Linked DNA regions of Homo sapiens. The protein of the gene in region 3 interacts with the protein of the main gene of each other region in a pairwise test. Each region holds a gene or a part of one and is shown on either strand. Other genes may lie near its edges.

Evidence for each region. The genes of interacting proteins can lie anywhere in the genome.
Region 1: the proteins of ATN1 (region 3) and EFEMP1 interact in binary tests that used the Homo sapiens proteins (3 or more experiments, as listed by UniProt).
Region 2: the proteins of ATN1 (region 3) and CTNND2 interact in a two-hybrid assay, tested with the Homo sapiens proteins (one study listed by BioGRID).

The regions. Positions count from the first base shown.
Region 1 is NC_000002.12:55,913,775-55,920,805, forward strand, and holds part of EFEMP1 (EGF-containing fibulin-like extracellular matrix protein 1 precursor), read right to left. Parts: intron 4,494-7,031; coding exon 4,445-4,493; intron 4,278-4,444; coding exon 3,891-4,277; intron 1-3,890. UniProt on the Homo sapiens protein: Binds EGFR, the EGF receptor, inducing EGFR autophosphorylation and the activation of downstream signaling pathways. May play a role in cell adhesion and migration. May function as a negative regulator of chondrocyte differentiation.
Region 2 is NC_000005.10:11,901,439-11,908,808, forward strand, and holds the start of CTNND2 (catenin delta-2), read right to left. Parts: upstream 3,009-7,370; 5' UTR 2,416-3,008; coding exon 2,379-2,415; intron 1-2,378. UniProt on the Homo sapiens protein: Has a critical role in neuronal development, particularly in the formation and/or maintenance of dendritic spines and synapses. Involved in the regulation of Wnt signaling.
Region 3 is NC_000012.12:6,937,942-6,942,835, reverse strand, and holds the end of ATN1 (atrophin-1), read right to left. Parts: coding exon 4,769-4,894; intron 4,356-4,768; coding exon 3,659-4,355; intron 1,957-3,658; coding exon 1,813-1,956; intron 1,463-1,812; coding exon 1,282-1,462; intron 1,090-1,281; coding exon 1,056-1,089; 3' UTR 515-1,055; downstream 1-514. UniProt on the Homo sapiens protein: Transcriptional corepressor. Recruits NR2E1 to repress transcription. Promotes vascular smooth cell (VSMC) migration and orientation. Corepressor of MTG8 transcriptional repression.

The DNA.
Region 1 (7,031 bases), on a different chromosome or scaffold from region 3:
TGAGGTGGGCACATCATCTGAGGTCAGGAGCTCGAGACCAGCCTGGCCAACATGGTGAAACCCCATCTCTACTAAAAATACAAAAATTAGCAGGGTGTGGTGGTGCACGCCTGTAGTCACAGCTACTCGGGAGGCTGAGGCACAAGAATTGCTTAAACCCAGAAGGTGGAAGTTGCAGTGAGCCAAGATAGCACCTCTGCACTCCAGCCTGGGTGACAGCGTGAGACTCTGTCTCAAAAAAAAAGGAGAAAGAGACTATGCAATAAAGGTGTAGAAAACTAAAGTGAGCCATCAACAGATTATAATATATTCCCCATTCATTCAACTTCTTTTTGGTGTAGATGAGTATCTGTTGTCTTTGAGGCAGATGATATCTAATGGAAACAATTAATTTCGAAAACTCTATCTATACATGGCCCCAGGTATGTAACACTGAAATGATCTTCATTTTATAGATGCCAAGAATAATGTCAGTCATGGGAAACTCCCAGCGTTACTGGCTCCCACAGCATGATCCTCATTTAGCAAAAAATTACCTGAAAAAAACCTGCTCACTGTGACCTGATCTTTGAATGTTATGTTGTATTTCAAACTCCTTGTTTTTGTACAAAACTGAAAACACCCCCAAAAATACATGAAGGGGAATAAACATATCATGTTTTCATTAAACAGTTAAATGGACAGCTATTTAAAGGATATATTTATAAAATAGTGTACATTTAAAATATCTAGTGGTATTATTTAAATTATTTAGAAGCCATCTGTGACTGGTATAGTGCATTCAAAGGCACAATTGATTTGAAGACTGAAACACAGTACAGATTTCAGTTCTTACATTTAAAATGTCCTGAGTTTTAGGTTATATAATGATAAACTATACCTGCTAAAAAATATACATAGAAAAAAGAAATAATTTTTATGCAAATAAGACTCATCTGTAAGATTCATTTATTCTATCCAGTAGACCATAGGAAATGTGTCTGGATTACTGGGCATAAATATGCAACATTTAAAAGGGAGTGGAGATCTTTATTAAAACAGAAGACTCTTCAAACTCCATGATGATGTCAATAATATAGGTCCTTAGAGCACATTATTGTTCTAAACAGAGGTCCCCATACTTCCACATTGGTTATAAAATATTATTTTGTGCTGCTGGCCTGGAATGAGAATGTCATACATCTGCAGGCAATTAGAAGAAGCTGGACTGCATGTTTGATTAGCTCAATAAGAAATGGGCACAAGTGTGACTCGACTTATGTTAGTCAAATTCCCTAGACAGATTATCCTGTTGTTATCATATGAAATAACCCCCTTTTATCAACAATTAAGTAAATCCACATTTATGGGCACTTTGCAAAATTGTGAGGTGGGAAGAAATCCAACTTAAGCCCTAAGCCTTCCAAAAAACTTTTAACCCTGCTTTCAATGGTATAGACACCAATCCCAAATTTTAGAAACTGGCTGAATTACACAGATCAATTTGGGTTGGAAATAACCTGTGTGCACACAGTCAACAGGTATGTATTTAGCATATTCCATAAGCAAGGCACTTAATAGTCTGCTTATAACTAAAAAAAATTCCCAAAGAAGAAAGAACTATAAATGTTTTACTATGTGAAACGTAACTTACTTTGTTAGGTAGTCTAAATATTTTCTAGAAAAGTTAAATAGGATTTTATTTTCATTAATCACAGTACAGTTTCTACCGTAACCAATACATGTTGTAAGTCTTGAATATATTTTATTCTAGGACCTCTTCATTTAGTTCTGGGCATTGTTCTTGAATTCAACCATAAATGTCAATGACGGTCTACAAACTACTTTGGGAAATGACTCATTCATTTATCTGGTTTTTTTTTCTCCCAAGTACCATTAAAGTACACATCTAAAGTATTCAAAATAATTCAGTATATAAAAGTTGATACTTAAGAATTTTTCAGCAAAATTTTTTGATTTTGGGAAAAATACTACCAAACTTTCCAGTCTAGTTATATAACTAAATAACACAATTAAAAGTTGGTCTATCTTAAATAAACTCAAGATTTTTTTTATCAGTATTAACCCAAATACATGTATAAGAATAACCTCATCATTTTATCTCCTTGACATAATCCTTAAATTCAATATCAGAATATCAAGCAGATGCTGAAGCATTCATCATCAATACTGGAATTCTGACTCATGACAGTAACACGAAACAGATGCTAATACGATGCACCCTCTGAAAAGTGACACCATCACAACATGGGTTAGGTCTTGATGTGGGGTACTTAAAGCTTACAAACAAAATATGAAATAAATAAGAGTCAGAGCATGACAAGTTTCCTTCATTTTTTTTTTTTTTTTTTTTGAGACAGAGTCTCACTCTGTTGCCCAGGCTGGAGTGCAGTAGCATGATCTCGGCTCACTGCAACCTTCACCTCCCAGGTTCAAGCAATTCTCCTGCTTCAGCCTCTCTAGTATTTGAGACTACAGGCATGTGCCACCATTCATAGAGAATTTTTGTATTTTTAGTAGAGATGGGGTTTCGCCATGTTGGCCAGGCTGGTCTTGAACTCCCGACCTCAGGTGATCCACCCGCCTCATCTTCCCAAAGTGCTGGGATTACAGGCGTGAGCCACCGTGCCCAGCCCCTTGCTTCATTTTTAAGCCATTTAAACTCGAGTATCTTTTACACAGAAGATAAAACTAAACACGGGTGAATAAGGGGCAGCATCCCAGGGCACAAGAAAATGCATCTTTCATTTAATGTAGCAGCTCAGTGGTCTCTATTGAAACCCTTGGTGTTAAGGGAGGAAGGTGCTCTCTTCCTTACACATGACCAGTTAGAAAGTAAGAACTCCTGGACCCTTTCCATTGGCCCACGTGTGCCATACACGTATGTGGTGGTGACATGGAGTTCTGCACTATGGGATCTACCTAATCAGCCTCTGGCAGGGAGAAAGGAGTCTGGAGGCTCCTATGGCCCCATTTCAGTAACACAGTCTCCACACCAGGCTGCTCTGAAATGGTTTGCCAAGAAGAAAGGGAAACAATCTCATAGCACAGTTCAGTTAGCTAATATCCTACATGTCTTCAAAGCCCCAGATTCTTATCACTTTGCTAATACGAGCCTACAGCTGTTTCTAGAATACACAGTGATGTGTATGCTCTGTGAAAATAAACAGAAAACCCTAGGCAGATGATGCCATGGTGCAAGTGATATAAGTGAAACGTCGTCAAATGAGAGCTTAAAAGAGATATAAACGTGAGTGGGGGAGAATCCCTCCAAGGTAATGAGAAGCAGGAGCCCCATTTCTTTACTCCTGAATGAGGAAAATAAGTCTGTGGCAAGTTCGATGAAAAGAAACTTGAGAAACCAAAGGGGTACATCTGTAGAGTAGCTTGACAGCATAATTTCAAATTCCCAGTGAATAACCTGATGGTGACTTTTGCCAGCTGTGACTTTGGCACCCGCCTTCCTGGGTTGGAAGGTCAGCTCTGCACTTAGCACCTGTGTGACCTCTGGTTCTCAAACTTGGCCGCACATGAGGAACTGAAAAAAAAGCCGATGCCTGGAACCCACCTCAGAGACTGTGATTTAACTGGGCTGGGGTGTAGCTTCGCCATCGAGAAGTTTTAAAGGTTCCCAAGTGACTCTAAATATGGGCAGCTAGGGTTGGGAACCACTGATGAACTTTCTAAGCCACAGTTTCCCATTTGTAAAGCAATGATGACAACTACAGCAACTACCCTTTAGGAATATTGTGATGATTAAATATAATGCAGACAAAGCACTTAGCATGATGTCTGGCACGCGAGAAGTCCTTAATAAATTATCATCATCCTCACCACGAGGTGCACTTGGGCAAAAGCTTTCAATGGTTAGGAAAATAAGTTATTCCTACCTTGGCACACGTTGTGTTCACTTTGCTCGTAGCCTGCTGCACACTGGATACGGTGGGAAGGGTTGGAGGGAATGCGCTGAGGGTCAGCTGGGTTCCGCCGGATGACAAAGTTATTTCGGCCAGTCTGCATTTCAGGGCCTGCGACTGCAGCAGCACTGGCCACAAAACCACCCCCGGGCAACACTCCACTGGTTGCCATGCTGCTGGCAGCTACAACCCCGGTGGTTGCCCCTGAGGTTCCTTCTGCTGGTTGTGTTTCCTGCTGAGGCTGTTCATTATTGACAATAATCTGGGCTGTTTTCGGAAGGCAGAGGTATCCTCCATAGTGGTTGACACACTTCATTCCACCTTTACAAGCGTCTGGGACAATGTCACATTCATCAATATCTGTGGTCAGTAATAAAATAAGTCAGGAATCTTCTAAGAGGGAAAAATCAAACATGTAAATATAATGCTCATGCCTTTTTGGTATAACACAGACAGGACAGGAAGAGTGACACAAGAGATGGAGACAGAAGGCAATGATCACATGGAAGTCTTTGAAGCTGGCTCACCTTTGCATTGCTGTCTCACAGGATCCCACTCATATCCGTCAGTGCATTGCTGTGAAGAAAACATCAAAGGTGGGGCCAGGAGACAGTTAATTGGTGTGTCCATTCCCTAAGAAATCACTCTAAAAGCTTCATTCTTATGGCAACAATCCTTGTGCTAAAGTCCTAGATATATGATGAGATGGGTGGTTTAACATTCTATCGCTTTTTTTTCAAAAGACAAGTCTGTGCATTGGACAGCTTCGGGGGTCCATTCTCAACCATCAGCTGCCTAAACTCTTCTGTTCTTTTTGGTACAGTTGCCCAGTACCATCTTCTTTTCTGTTTTGAGACTAATCTTCTCCAACTTCTCTGACTGCTCTTTATTAATTTGCCTTTTTTCCCACATTGGAAATGTTAAAAAAAAAAAAGACCAAATTCTCTCTCTTTCCTCGCCCTCTCCCCCGCCCCCACCCCCAACCAGCCCTGGACTCTTCTCTCTCTCTCTAAATCCTCTTACAGCATTCAAGCACCTCCATCTCACACCCTGACCTGCTCCCTAGCTTCAGCTCCTAAGGAACAGAGGTGTTCCTCCTAGCAGTTCCCAGCTTCAATCTCCTCTCTAGTTCACCCACTGAACAAACAGCCTATGGATCACCTTCTGAAACCAGGCAGTTTTAGGGCCTGGGGATGCAAAGATGATGCAGACTTTGTCCCTGTCCTCAAGCAGCTCAAAGACCAGAAGAGGAGACAGATAGGTAGACAAGTTGCAGCAAGATGGCAGGTGCCTTCTACAAGTGTATGCAGGAAGGAGTAATGGACTCTGCCCGGGGGCATGGGTGAGCATGGCAGGGCAGAAGGGAAGACTTGACAGAGGAGGTGACAGTAAATCAGGCTTTACAGGATGAGCAGGATTTTTCCAGGTGAATGTGGGAATTCTAGGAAGAGAGGCTATTGTGACAAAGGCATAAAATTTTTGAAAAGGGAAGGAGCTGCAAGGAGTTCTGGGTAGGTGGAGGATGAGGTTACAGAGGTAGGCAGGGCCAAAACAAGAAAGCCTTTCTTTAGGAATGGAAGCCTGAATTCTACCCTGAAGGTCAGTGAATCTCAAGCTTTATTGTGTCTAAGGATCATTCAGGGTTCTTGTTAAAATGAAGATTCCTGGGCCCACCCAAAGGATTTGATTCTGTAGGTCTGGGTAGGGGGCCTGGAATCTAAATTCTTAGCAAGTATCCCAGGCGATTCCCATACAGGTTGTCTAGGAACTACTTCTTGAGAAATGTTGCTACAGGCGATAAGAGGCCTCTGAAGAATTTTTAAGCTCAGGAAACAATCTGATCAGACGCTCATTTGAGAAAGTCACTGTAAGGAAGAAGCCCAAGGAAGGATTGAGCAAAAGTGGAGTAAACAAACAAATAAACTTAAATTCTTTTAATATAACTGAGAGCTGCTTATGTACACAATGGATGCTTGACAAGGAAATAGCTGAATGGAAGCCCAGAGATCCATTTAGATATTTTACTGATGTCTGAAACTTACTGGAGCGAGAACTAAATTCACTTTGTCTCTCAGACTAATTTTTTTCTTGTTTCCCAAACAGTGTTAAAGGTACCACTACCTTTTTCGAAACCCAGGATTCCAACTTTAACATCAGTGCTGAATGCTCCACTTATTTTCCTTCCATCTCTGCTGACTTTGTGTCCATTTCTACCATGTCTACTAAGAAAGGCTTTTGCTGGCCCATGAGTAGGCAAGGCCCCGCATCTCTACATGCTGCATACAGACCCCATGATCTTTCTTGTGCTCTTGGTTATGTTGCTCCTCTCTCTGAGACCTCACAGTGACCTGCAGATCTCTCATCATCACCATCTCTGGGTTCTTCCCACTACCCAGTTCCAGCTGATCTGACCTTATCACCACCTGGATTGGTCTCAGGTGCTTTCAGCTCTAGCTTTTGATTATGCCACTCTCTGACTCAGGTGCCTCTTCAGCCTTTCTAGATCAATCCAACCAAGGTCATCACTTCCTTCAAGAACCAGCACAGAGTTCTGTCTCCTCTAATATGCTGGCACCAACATTAATCACCTCCTTGCTTTTCTATTTCCTTGGCAATTTGTATAATCTGTATAATAGTATCATTTGTCCTTGCTTAGGAACTTTGTAGTTTTCAACACTGTCTTCCCAGGCTAAATTCTCCAAGAGGAGACTGAATTTTCTTAGTAAACAAACAAATTCTTTTAATAGTGATGAGAATTGCTTATGCAGATAGTTGTTGAGTAAACAGCTGAATGGACACCATCTTTAATATGGAAGAGGACTATGAGGCTATTATGTGGATACGAGCCCATTCTTCTGAAAAGTATCTTTCAAGCCAGGCAAAAATGGCAGTTCACTTGAATAATTTGTATGGTAAATAGAGAAGACTTGCAATTTGTTTTAGGTATTTACTTCTAGACATTTAATGTCAGTGTACTATTAAGTAAGCCTAGACTGAGTTTAGCTTCACCACTTGGCTATGTAGCCCTAAGCAAGTTAGACACTCTCTCTGATCTTCAGTTCTACCATTAGTGGAAGGAAGATGATGCCACTTACCTTACACATTGCCGCAAGG
Region 2 (7,370 bases), on a different chromosome or scaffold from region 3:
TTTGAATTTCATTTTTGTCTCTGATGAACAATTTCACTGGGAGAAAGAATTGGCTTATATTCTATTGTGAAAGATGTAAAGTGGATAGAAATACTGTAATTTGACAGTGTATGACTTTTATTACGAACAATGAAAACATTAGTGACATCTATAATGACTGGGTTATACAACTACACAAACGTACACCAAATTAAATAACTCCTTTCCGCAAGACTATGACAATTTTATTAGGGCAACAACCTCACGTACTTACCACAATTGCCATTCAATCAGATAATATCATTTTCAATCCACAATATAACATAAAACCCACATATACAGTATATGTAGTTTTTCACATGCCCATCGGCCGCTCTGGGTACACACACAGGCACAGAGCAGTATCAACTAGTCCTTTAAAAATCATGTTTAAGAATGAAACACTAGGCTCAAAAGGAAAAAAGAAAAGGAAACGAGACATGTATGCTACTTCATCTATTGCTTTTGAAAGAAATTTTATATTAAAACAATGCAGTGGGCATAACGGTGTGTTCAAAGTGCTCTCGGAAAGTTCCCTGAATGTGAATAAGGTGAAACTAAAGCAATATTGCTAAAGACTAATCACAGTATTCAATCAACTTGAGCCGTATAGACCTTGCCAGTCCTCCTGCAACACTGACTTGTGATTAGTGTAATCAAAGGCCTCCCAAATTTCAACACTTAACTCCGAATGTAATCGTCTTCCTTCAAGCCCTGAGCCCTTGGAACCCACAGATCAGTAATGATGCCACTTAACATTTTTCCCCAACAACAGTAGGAACATTCTCCGTATGGCAACCATATGCTAATAAAAGACATTTGAGGGCAGTTTAAAGCATCTAGTTCGTATTTGAGGATACTCGCCCCTATATATCACACGTCTCGTAGCAGAAATCCCCAAAATAATGACAGGTTCACCGCCATAACTTGATATGAGTCACAGCAAACACTTCTCCATGGGATTTTAGAAGTGGTGCAGCCCCGAAGCCTTGTCATTATGTAGGTGAATGACCAGCAGCAGAGACCAGCTGGACTGCCCTCGGTAGCTTCAGCCCCTGATGAAGTATGCACAATGAGATAACTCCTAGGGAGTTTCAGCACCTCCTTGTTTTCATGGAAGTCACTGCAGAAAATCCCAAGACTCTTAAATATTGGTCACATAGTTCTTAAAAGTGAAAATTTACACCTGTCAGGCCTAATACTATGCTGACAACATTCTCTGTTTTCTAAATCAACATATTTGCTTGAGCACAGTAAAAATACATCTTAATAACACCTGCCAGAGCTAAGGCGAATCAGATCAGCTCAAATGAGGCACACAAGAAAAGAAAAGAAAAAAAAACACCTTGGAAACACAACCTGCCCCTCTATCTCTCATCTCCCACACCCTTCATACCCCCACGGTTACAGCAAAATACAACTTTGGGCATTTTGGAAGTAACTGTTATTTGTGACACACACACACACACCCCAAAAATTCCCAAGTCTGTTTTCCTACCACAAACACCAGGGAGGCTGCATCACCTTTCTAGTGACTTAATTCTGAAAGCAGAGGCTCAACCTGCCGAGTGGCAATCGAAGAAAACACACTACACACCAGAATAAGATGAGGGTCGGGAAAAAAAGAAAAAAGCAGCTTCGCTTTCAGCCATTAATTACGGATCACCCCAATTTTGCATCGCTCATCTCCCATACACACGCACAGCCTTCCAAACCTGGCTTTCAGGCGGCGCTTTCTGGAGCCTGGCTGTCTATTGTCAGCACGCAGAAGCCCCCGAAACCTGTGAAGCCGGCTGCAAAGGCTTGCTGGGAAGCCGCTAAATATAGACCAAGGGGGCTCAGGGTCTGGCAAGCCGCGGGAGCCTGAAGACACGGCCATGGACGCATATGACTAAGTCTTTCCATTTTGTTCTAGCCAAACATCGTAATGACATTGAACATAAGGGCAAAAGACTGGAGGGAAGTCCTCCCCACCCCCACCCCGTCTCCTCCCGTATATTAGGGACGTCATGAATGCACCGAGTATGTTCTCAGGGTGGCGGGGAGCAGCATTGTCGGTGTTGCCCTAAATACGCTTCCTCCCGGGGAGATGGGTGGCAGGGAGGGGGAGCACGCAGGGCAGCCACTTGGTAACCGCTCCAAGAAAGGCACTAACCCCGGACCCCCTTCCAGGCACAGCGGCTTCCGAGGGGGACCTGGCGCGATCGCGGTCCTCCCCGAGGCAGGCAGAAACCCCGCAGCAGCCGCCGCCGCCGCCTGCCGGCCGGGAGCCCAGGACCACCCCCACCAGCGGCAAGAGGAGGAGGACGGCGCCGGGAGGAGGCTGCGCCCGGCCCCGGCCGCCCAGCCCCGCAACTCACCCAAAGGCGCGGCGCCCGGCGGCTTCCTCGCAAACATGCACCCTCCGCCGGCGACAGCTCCTCAGTCCGGGAAGAGGCGTGCGCGGCGCCGCCCGGCTTCAGGGCAAGGTCCTGACCTTGCCCAACTGCAGCATCTTCCGCTTTTGTTGTCTGAGCGCGGCCGCGGGACAAGGGATGCTGGCGGGCGGCAGGGGCGAGCGCCGCGGGCGAGAGGCGGCTCCCGACGCGAGTGCGCAGCGCCCGGCCCGGCGGCCCCTCCGAGCTCGGCGAGCGCAGCGCCCCCTGCCCGGCTCCGCGGGCTCCACGGGCTCCTGCGGGCTCCTCGGGGCTCCGGGCGCCGCCGCCAGCCGGCCGGGCTGAGAGAGCAGCCGCCGCGCCCGCAGCTCCGCTCAGCCGGCTGTCGCCGCGGGCGCGAGCCTGGGGCCGCCGCGGCGCCCGGCGCCGAGCGCTCCCGAGCTGCGCCCCGCGCGCGGCCCGCGCCACCTGTGCCGCCGCCGCCTCAGCCGCCGAGGGCGAGGCTCCTCCCGCGGCGCGCGGCAGCCTCAGCCTCCACCTAAACCTCGGCGGCCGGCCCGGGCGCCCGGCTAGTGAGGGAGCGTCCGCCCCGCCGCCGAAACCGGCCCCGGGTGCGGAGCATGCCCAGTGCCGCCGCGAGAGCGGCGCTTCGCCGCGCGCGTTCCACTTCTCCTGGTTTTCGCGGCAGCAGCGGCAGCCGCGGGAGAGAGGGGAGGAGGCCGCGGGTTGGGAGAGGGCCGAGCATCCTTGGGAACGCACGCCCTGGACCTGAGATGGGTGGATGCTCCGGAGCTAGGCGAAAGCTGGAAGGGACCCGGGAAGGGATGGAACCCCAGGTTACTCCGCTTCCCTAATTCACGTGCAAGGCGCTGACAGTTGACTCTGGTGGGGCAGATGTCAGCCTGCAACAAAGGACCAGGGTGCGAGGGGTCCTAGAGTGGCCAGGTGGGTTGGGGGAGGGAGGCTGGCGGAACGTGCTGGTGAGCGCAGGTAGATGCTCTTGCAGATCCTGTGATTCCAGAGCTAAGGAGGCACGAAGTCCAGCAGAGGTCTTCTCCACAGCACCTGCCCAATCTTGCCATCACCTTCCCTGTTCAGATGGCATGTTTTTGGCGGGTAGTGAGGGTTTCTCCTTAGGCAAAATCACTTCAGATTTGAAACTGGAATGTCTGTAAACTTCCTGCAAGAAAGACCCTTGCCCAGTCTGGAACTTGAGCAGATTAAGTTCTCTCTCCTCCCCTTCTTGTGCCACCTTGTCCTCCTCTCTTGGTATCTTCTGCTGCATCTCTGCCACCTTCTCTTCCTCCTTTTCTTCCTTATTTCAAAGTGAACCACTCCCCTGATCCTTCCCCACAGTCTTCCAGTGCATCTCGCATTGCCTTCTTCACGTTCAAATCAGTTTTCCATATCACCTCCTGGCTTGACTGCTCCTTGACCCCATCGGGACTTCCCCATGCGTAGCCTGCTGTGAAATACAGCAAGTGGAATCACCGTATTCAAAGTCTTGTTGAAAAACGAAACCCAAAACATGTGCCAAGGAAGGCCTCTGGGCCTTCGCCCCTGTCCCTCTGATTCAGCAGCAGTCAGGACGGGGCTCACGTCTGCTGCATTCACAAGCCAAGCCAAGCAGGGCACAGCCTGCCCAGGGGCCAGGTCGAATGTTCCTCCTAATTATGCCACGGGCATGACCCTGAACACCGCAGACTGTCTGAGGTTGTGATCTCCTCCACCCCCCCCACCCCCCCCACCCCCGCAGAGCTTGTTTCTGAAACACAAATAAGCATGACAGAATGCAGGAAATTGTAATAAAAGGGATTTGGTGCTTACGATTCTCAGTAACATTGTGCTTCTATTTTGTGTTGAAAGAGATTATCCAACAAACTTAAATGATTTGAATATTCAAGTCTATTCTTTATTATACTTGGGAGTAAGTTGAAATATAAATGGAAGTAAGAGTGAAGGAGAAAAGCGGTACAGAGGTTAAATAGGTAACAAATAATTGCTAGGAGGAGCAGATTAAGCAGACTATTGACAACAGTACAAATGTTCGCTTTTATTCCTCCTACCCCAGGTGTGGACATGCACACACAGGCTTTGTCTCACCTGCAAAAAACAGTTCTCCAAGCTAACTCCAAGTGTCTTAAAGCCAGTTTGATATTAAAATATCCTGAGTCCTGTGAGGGAAGACATGCAAGACCATTTTTTTCATCACACGTTTAATTGTAATTTTTATCTTAGTTCTCAGAAAGGCAGTTCAATTACACTGAGTACGTGGTACAAGACAAATTAGCAGCACCATATCCATTAGGCCACATTATATTTCAAGAGATGTTCTTAGTTCCCACCTGAGCTTCTGTCAGTCTGCTATCGTTTGGTTTTCTCTTTGCATCTTCTAACTCAAGAAGTCAGTGGGGAGGTGGAAAGGGAGATGAGGGGACATCAGTTACTCTTTAGATTAAAATGGAGGTAGATGTGTAGATGCTATCCACAGGTAATATATGTGTCTTTTATGCCTGATATAGATCTAAGTAAAGAAAATAATTTTCTAACGTTTTTTAGTTACTATCGAGATGAGCAATGACAAATTCTATCAACTAATTGTGTGTCTGGGAAATGAGCTGGAGGCAGTCCCTACAGATACTGTTGGGGCTGGGGCTGGTGTGATATGGTTATTTAGGAAGCAGAGTGGTAAAGTCCAATGTCCTGGACTGCTTTGATTTCATTTGCTCAGTGCCCCATTTCATTGAAACATTTATGACTTTTATTATTCTAGAATAATTTGTAACTTAAGATATTATTCAATTCACAATTAGATAATATTGAAAAATAAAGCAAAATGAACATGTATAATGTTAGATCTTGGAACGACTCACTGCTGCCATCTTTTGCCTCCTGCTTCCGATAGTTCCTATATAAAGGAATATTCTGAATCCTCAAATTCACTATGAGACTAGAACATTATTAGTTTATTATTTTCAAATTACAGTACTCAATGCTCAGTGAAAAACCTTCATTGTATTTCTTCTGTTTATGCATTAATAGAGTTATCTGATACAGAAATCACATATAAATACTAAATGCTATATCTCTTGATTTTTCAAATCACTTTTCAAAATTTGAAGCAAACGTTTTTATATGGAAGTGTAACTTAACTTTAGAAATAAAATCTAACAATTCCAAATATTTTTTATAAATGTATGTGTCTTATTTTGTAATTCAAAGTATGTCGATTTTAGGAGAATGGCATTCTTATTTAAGTCACAGCTGTTTCAATATGGCATTGTTTGTTGCTATTGAGATTCAAATAGAAGATAATATTTTTGTAATTTTTTAAGTGAATTACCCATTGATAAACAATTGAGAAATTTTCAAATTGGGAAATGAAATCAGGTGAGTGATTATTGTTGCTGTTCAGCATTTAAATAGGGAGAGTAATGATACTTCTTTCAATTCACAATTTAAATTTTAAAGCAAATTACCTGAAATAGTAACCCAATAGTGTCATCATAAGTACATGTGTGTATATATTTGGGAGGCTAACACACACTGTTTGCTCTTGATCATAAAAGTTATGATATTTGTTACCTGAAAGTATCTCTAAGTTTTTGAAGACTGTAAAGTAGTTAACTAATTTAAACTAACCATTTTAGTTAAGATCAACGTGTGGGTCATTTCACTATTTGATTGCAAACTTCACATTTTCACTCAAATTGCCTTTTATTATTGCTGCAACTCCTATGATGGTATCATTCATTCATTCAGCAAATGTTTATTGAGCATCCATCCGCTGTGGTTCAGTATTGGCCAAAATTTGGAGAATTAGTAGCAAACAATAGAGAAGACAACAAATTCCTTATCCTCCCAGAGTTTAATTATGAATTGGGGTTATGGGGGAAGCAGAAATTGAAGCACTGCAGAGAGGTAATCACCACCAGAAGCTGAAATGAGGAACACAAATGTCCTCATTTCTTCCTAATTGTCTGTGTGCCTCAGTGTATTGGCTTCCTGTTATGGGAGGAAAGTTCATCTATATTGGATTAAGCCGTGGTGGTTGGATTCTGTTACCTGCATCAAATTCAAGCTCAAATTGAAATATATGTTATCTGTAATGTCTCCCCTCTGCTCACTATAGCTGTTATTACTGTATTTCCCCCACAATGTATTTCCAAAAATTAAAACATTTTTTCAACAAAGTGAGTAAATGAATATGGTCTAAATCATATGTATTAGAAGATAAATTAAGGAATAATATAAGACCAGTTTTTTATTGTCACTGACCAATAAATTCATGTTCAAAGCATTGCACAATGAGTCCACCTCAACGATTTTTATACTGTCTCCCAAAATGAAATACCTCATTTTCAGTCTTTGTTCTCCTTAATGTTCTCTACCCACTCCAGTGTCACTCTCAAGTTTGTACAGAATACACGTTCTGAAATTGATTTACTCATTAAAATGAAATCCTTGAAGCTCTCATTTTATTACCCATAAATAAGCCAAATCTTGCCTCTTGCTTTGTTGTGAAAATTAAATGAATGAATCAGTCTATGATAAGCAAATGGCTCTATGCCTGGCAAATAGGGAGCAATTAGTAAATGATGGTGAACATGAGTCATGACATTAGAATATCTCTTTCACCTCTGCTGTTTTCGTCGGCTTGCTATATCAAAACACACTTATTATCTGATTGCGCATATCTTATTCAGTCATCAAGACACCTAGAAGATACCATTTTGCCAGTGAGCTTTTTCATATTCATTTCTTTCAAATAATCATTAACTAAATTTCTCCTACATGCAGGTAATTATATCATGCAGACTAATCATGAGAATTTACAGGGATCTCCATTTGGTAAACTGGTTGTGTTTCATGCTTTCACTGAATTTTTAGGAATTTGAAAATACATCACATTCAGATTACAGAGTCAGGTAGCTTACCTTTTTGTCATATTTCATCATGTCTATATATTTATATGCT
Region 3 (4,894 bases):
TGAGATAGGGCCTTGCTCTGTCACCCAGGCTAGAGTGCAGTGGTGCGATCATGACTCACTGTAGCCTCGACCCCCAAGTGATCCTCCCACCTCAGCCTCCTGAGTAGCTGGGACCACAAGTGCACCACAACCCCCAGCTGATTTTGTCTTAAGATGGGGTTTCTCTATGTTGCCCAAGCTGGTTTCCAACTCCTGGGCTCAAGCAATCCACCCGCGTCTCACAGGCATAAGCCACAGAGCCCAGACCGAGGCCTCCACTGGCGCGCAGCGGTCCTGCCCAGCCTTGGGGCAGGAGGGGGCACCAGCACCCATGGTACCGCCTCCAGCTGAGTCAAGGCTCTGGGCTCTTCAGGGATCCCCTCTCCAATTCTTCCCAGCCCCCACACCCCGTTCCTTAAGAAGGTCTGGTCTCTTCCCGCTTCCCTGCCAGGCCCTGGCTGCAGTTCTCTCTAAGCACCGCTGCACTGAGACCCAGCCTCACCCCCATATCCCGCAAAGAATAGTCACAGCCATGTTCCTGGGGAGTTGTGAGGATGTTTTTGTTTGGTTGGTTTTGGTTGGGATGTTTTTTTAAGAGCGTCATATAGATATTTATATATATAAATTATTAGTGTGGGGAAGGGGCAAGGGGCATACATTGCAGAGGGGGCGCGCACACAGGGATCGGGGAGGGGCAGGGGTGGCACACGATGCTACGCAAAACAGCCACATCTAACAGATGAAATAATCACACCAACGGGGCAGGGGAGGGGCGGCGGCCACAGGGGTTGGGCATGGGGGAGGAGAAAAGCAGGGGGGACAAGGAAGAGAGACCTGGTCCAAGATTCTGTGCGCTTTCTGTCCCCATCCTCGCCACCTCCCCACCTCTGCACACCACATCGGGCCTTGGCCTTCTGTCTGTCCCTCCCTCCCCCACTCTCTGTCCAGCTGCGGAGGCCCTGCAACTGAGCAGCACCCTCTTGGCTCTGGGTGGCAGGCCAAGGGCACGGTGGGGGGAGGGTGGGGGTGCTCCAAGGTCCAATGTAGGAGCCATGGTGCTCTCTTGATCGCAGGTTCTACAGTGGCTTGTCGCTTTCCTTCTTCAGGTGACTAGGGAAGGGGCAGTGCATAGCAGAGAGGTAAGAGACTTGAGACCAACTCTGACCTTGCCCCCTCTTACCGAAGGGGTTGGGAGAGGAGGGGTTCCCTCCCCCAGGAGCACGGTGCCCAGCCGTACCATGCCCACAGCTCCTCCCAGGCTCGCTGAGCCCATGTCCCCTGGGCTGGGGCACCCTAGGGTACCTGTAGTAGTCCTCCTGGGCAGGCAGCGGCACACTGTGCAGCGGGTGATGGGCATGCAGCCACTGCTGCTGTTCCAGCGCCAAGCGCTGCAGCTCAGCTGACTGTGCGTGCATGGCCTGCAGCTGATGAGCTGCTGACATCGGGGCAGAAAGGGAGGCCGGCAGGTCCCGGTAAGGGGCAGCTGTGAGCAGGAAGGGCAAGGGGCATATGACCAACGGATAACAAGTACCTGCTCTGGACCAGGGGATAGCCAGCTCCTTTACATACAAAGGTAATGAACTAAAAAGTGAGGTAACACACCCAGTTCTGTAAGTTGCCAGTGGTAGGGTGGAATTGGGATTCGAACCTCTTAGGCTGACACTAAAACTCGTGCTTCTCTTGGGCAGAGCTCCAGCTCTCCTATTCCCATGCCCAGCTCCTCTAGGCACCTCCTCATCCCTCCCCAAGCCCAACTAGGCCCATCCCCCCACCCAAATACCTCCTTTCTGCCCTTTTCTCATTGGAGCTGCCTACCCCAACTTCCATCCTTACCAAAGAGCTGGTGACGAAGAACTTCGTTCTCGTGCAGAGGGTGAGGAAGCAGGGGGTTAGGGAGAGTTCCAGCTGGGTAGGGGATCCGGGTAAGGTGAGACCCTGAGGCCAGGGGGTCAATGAGAGGGTGCACCGAGGCAGAGGCTGGAGGGCAGAGAAGAGGAAGGTGTCACCAGAAGGCAGGTTTGGGGCAAACCATGCATTTGGGTGAAGGGATCCAAGCCTGGGAACTGAGTCAGACAAACACAAGGAGGTCCAAAGTGGAACAAAGGCAGAGTGGAAGAACTAGAGGCCTGGCAGGGGTGGACAGGCTGAGCCCTACTGGAGGAGGGACATATGGATGACACAGGACAGGAGATTACAGTCATCAGAAGGGTCTGAGGGGAAGGACAGAGAGAGGTAGACTGCGTGAAGAAGGTGGAAGATGATAGAAGTTTAGAAAATAAGACAAGAAGAGGCCGGGCACAGTGGCTCAAGCCTATAATCTCAGCACTTTGGGAGGCTGAGGCAGGCAGCTCACCTGAGGTGAGGAGTTCAAGACCAGCCTGGCCAAGATGGTGAAACCCTGTTTCTACAAAAAATACAAAAAAATTAGCCAGGCAGGGTGGCACACGCCTATAGTCCCAGCTCCTCGGGAGGCTGAGGCAGGAGAATCGCTTGAACCTGGGAGGTGGAAGCTGCAGTGAGCCGAGATCGCGCCACTGCACTCCAGTCTGGGCAAAAGAAAAAAAGGAAGCCGGGTGCGGTGGCTCACGCTTGTAATTCCAGCACTTTGGGAGGCCAAGGCGGGTGGATCACAAGGTCAAGAGATCAAGACTATCCTGGCCAACATGGTGAAACCCCGTGTCTACTAAAAATACAAAAATTAGCTGTACTTGGTGGCACACGCCTGCAGTCCCAGCTACTCGGGCAGGCAGTGCCTGCTGAGGCAGAAGAATCACTTGAACCCCAGAGGCGGAGGTTGCAGTAAGCCGAGATCGCGCCACTGCACTCCAGCTTGGTGACAGGGCGAGACTCCGTCTCAAAAACCAAAAAATGGTGAAAGGATAGTAAGTAAAGCTCATTATCGCCTATGACACCCAAACCCAAAGCTACAGGGCCCTTTCTAGAAAGTTACAGATCTAGAGATGGGGAAAAACATGAAAGACCTCGCAGAGGGAGAAGAGGAGAAAATGGCAAAAAATGAGTTGAATCCAGAGAAATCAGAAGATAGGTTTGTGGGTTGGGCACGGTGGCTCACGCCTGTAATCTCAGGACTTTGGGAGGCCGAGGTGGGTGGATCGCTTTGAGCTCAGGAATTTGAGACCAGCCATGGCCAACATGGCGAAACCCCGTCTCTACCAAAAATACAAAAAGTAGCCAGGTATGGTGACACACGCCTGTAATCCCAGCTACTCCAGAGGCTGAGGTAGGAGGATCACTTGAGACCGGGAAGTCGAGGCTGCAGTGAGCTGTGATTGCGCCACTACACTCCAGCCTGGGTGGCAGAGCCAGACCATGTCTCAAAAAAATAAATAAGAAGACAGGTTTGTGAAGGGCTTGGGAGAATGGGGCTGTGAGAATAGAAAAGTGTCCTTCAAAAGCTCCCGTGTGGGCCTCTGTCATGGGAAGGATACTAGACTATGGAGAGAACTGGGCTGTGGGGCATACAGGCTTTGTGGCCAGGGAAGGCCATGAGAAGACAAGGCTGAGAGAACGTCAGGGAGGCAAAGTTCAGGGCAGCAATCTCAGGAAAGGTTCATGCCAGGCCAGGGGAGGAAAGTCTTGGCCATAGGAATGAAAGAGCCCAGTCATGATAGGGGGAAGGTGGCCCCAAAGGGCCAGGGCAAGGAAGGAGGGGTCTCACCTGCATGGATAGCATCTTGCTGGTGCAGGTGCAGGTGCGAGTGGATGTGGGAGTGCTGGTGGTGATGGGGAGTCACATTGAGCATCTGCAGCCGGGCCAGTGGGTCATTGCCCAGGGCCGCCACCCTTTCTGCGTGCTGCCTCTCAGCTGCCAGCCGCTCAGCATAGGACATGTCAGGCCGCAGGGCTGGCCCAGCTGCCAGCGCTAGACGTTCTCGCTCCAGGGGCCCCAGGCTCGGATGAAAGGGGAAAGGGTGCAGGCCAGGTGGGCCAGGCTGCAGAGCCAGGCCCCCATGTCGGGGAAAGGGATCCAAGCCCGGCCCAGGGACCCCATGTAGGGGTTCCAGCTCACTAGGCTTCACCTCAAAGCCAGGCTTGAGGCGGTCACGGAGGTCTCGTTCACGGGCTTCCCGTTCCCTCTCCCGGGCAGCTGGATCACTGCTGTACAGGGCCGGGACATTGTAACCCAGGAGCCCCGGGTCCACTGCCCCCAGGGGCACGTAGAATGGATGGTTGCGATTGCCAGGAGACATGACATGAGGCCGGGCATATTCACTGAGAGTGCGCAAGGCTGGAGTGTCAGGACCCAGGTAGGGGGGCACTGTAGCCACCGCACTGCCCGGTTCAAATGGAGGGCGATGGGGCACTGGGCCCAGAGATGGGCATTCCACCGGAGCACGGCCCTCCTGAGCCAACTTCTGTGGGATACAGGGAAAAGTGGAGTCAAAGCGGCAGTTATGAAAAGAGGTGGCTGGTTTTAAGCTGCCCATTTGTTTCGACAGCCGAATGCCAAAATGCCTCAACTCATTGAAACTCTGCCCACCTGGAACTTAACTGCGGCCCCCGCTCCCGAATATTTGCCCTTCTTGGGATCCACAGGTAGTCCCATCTGAGCATGCCTTTTCCCAACCCAGGAATGCAGATGGCTCTCGCTGAAAACCTTTTGGGCTCCATTTCCTGGGCTGCAGTGGTACCTCCCCTCCGACAGGTGGCGACGTGACTCGCCCGCCCACCCAGCCACAGCCCCGCAGCGTAGCGTAGCGCAGCGCAGCGCAGAGGGAAGGAAGGAAAGAGGGAAAGAAGGCGGTGGCGCAGGCAGTGACGCACTCACCACGCTGCGTTCAAGCTCGCGCTCCTTCTCGCGCTCGCGCTCTTTCTCGCGTTCCCGCTCGCGCTCGCGCTCCTTTTCTTCGCGCGCGCGCTGCTCGGCCTCGCGCCGCACCTTCTCCACCAGGTC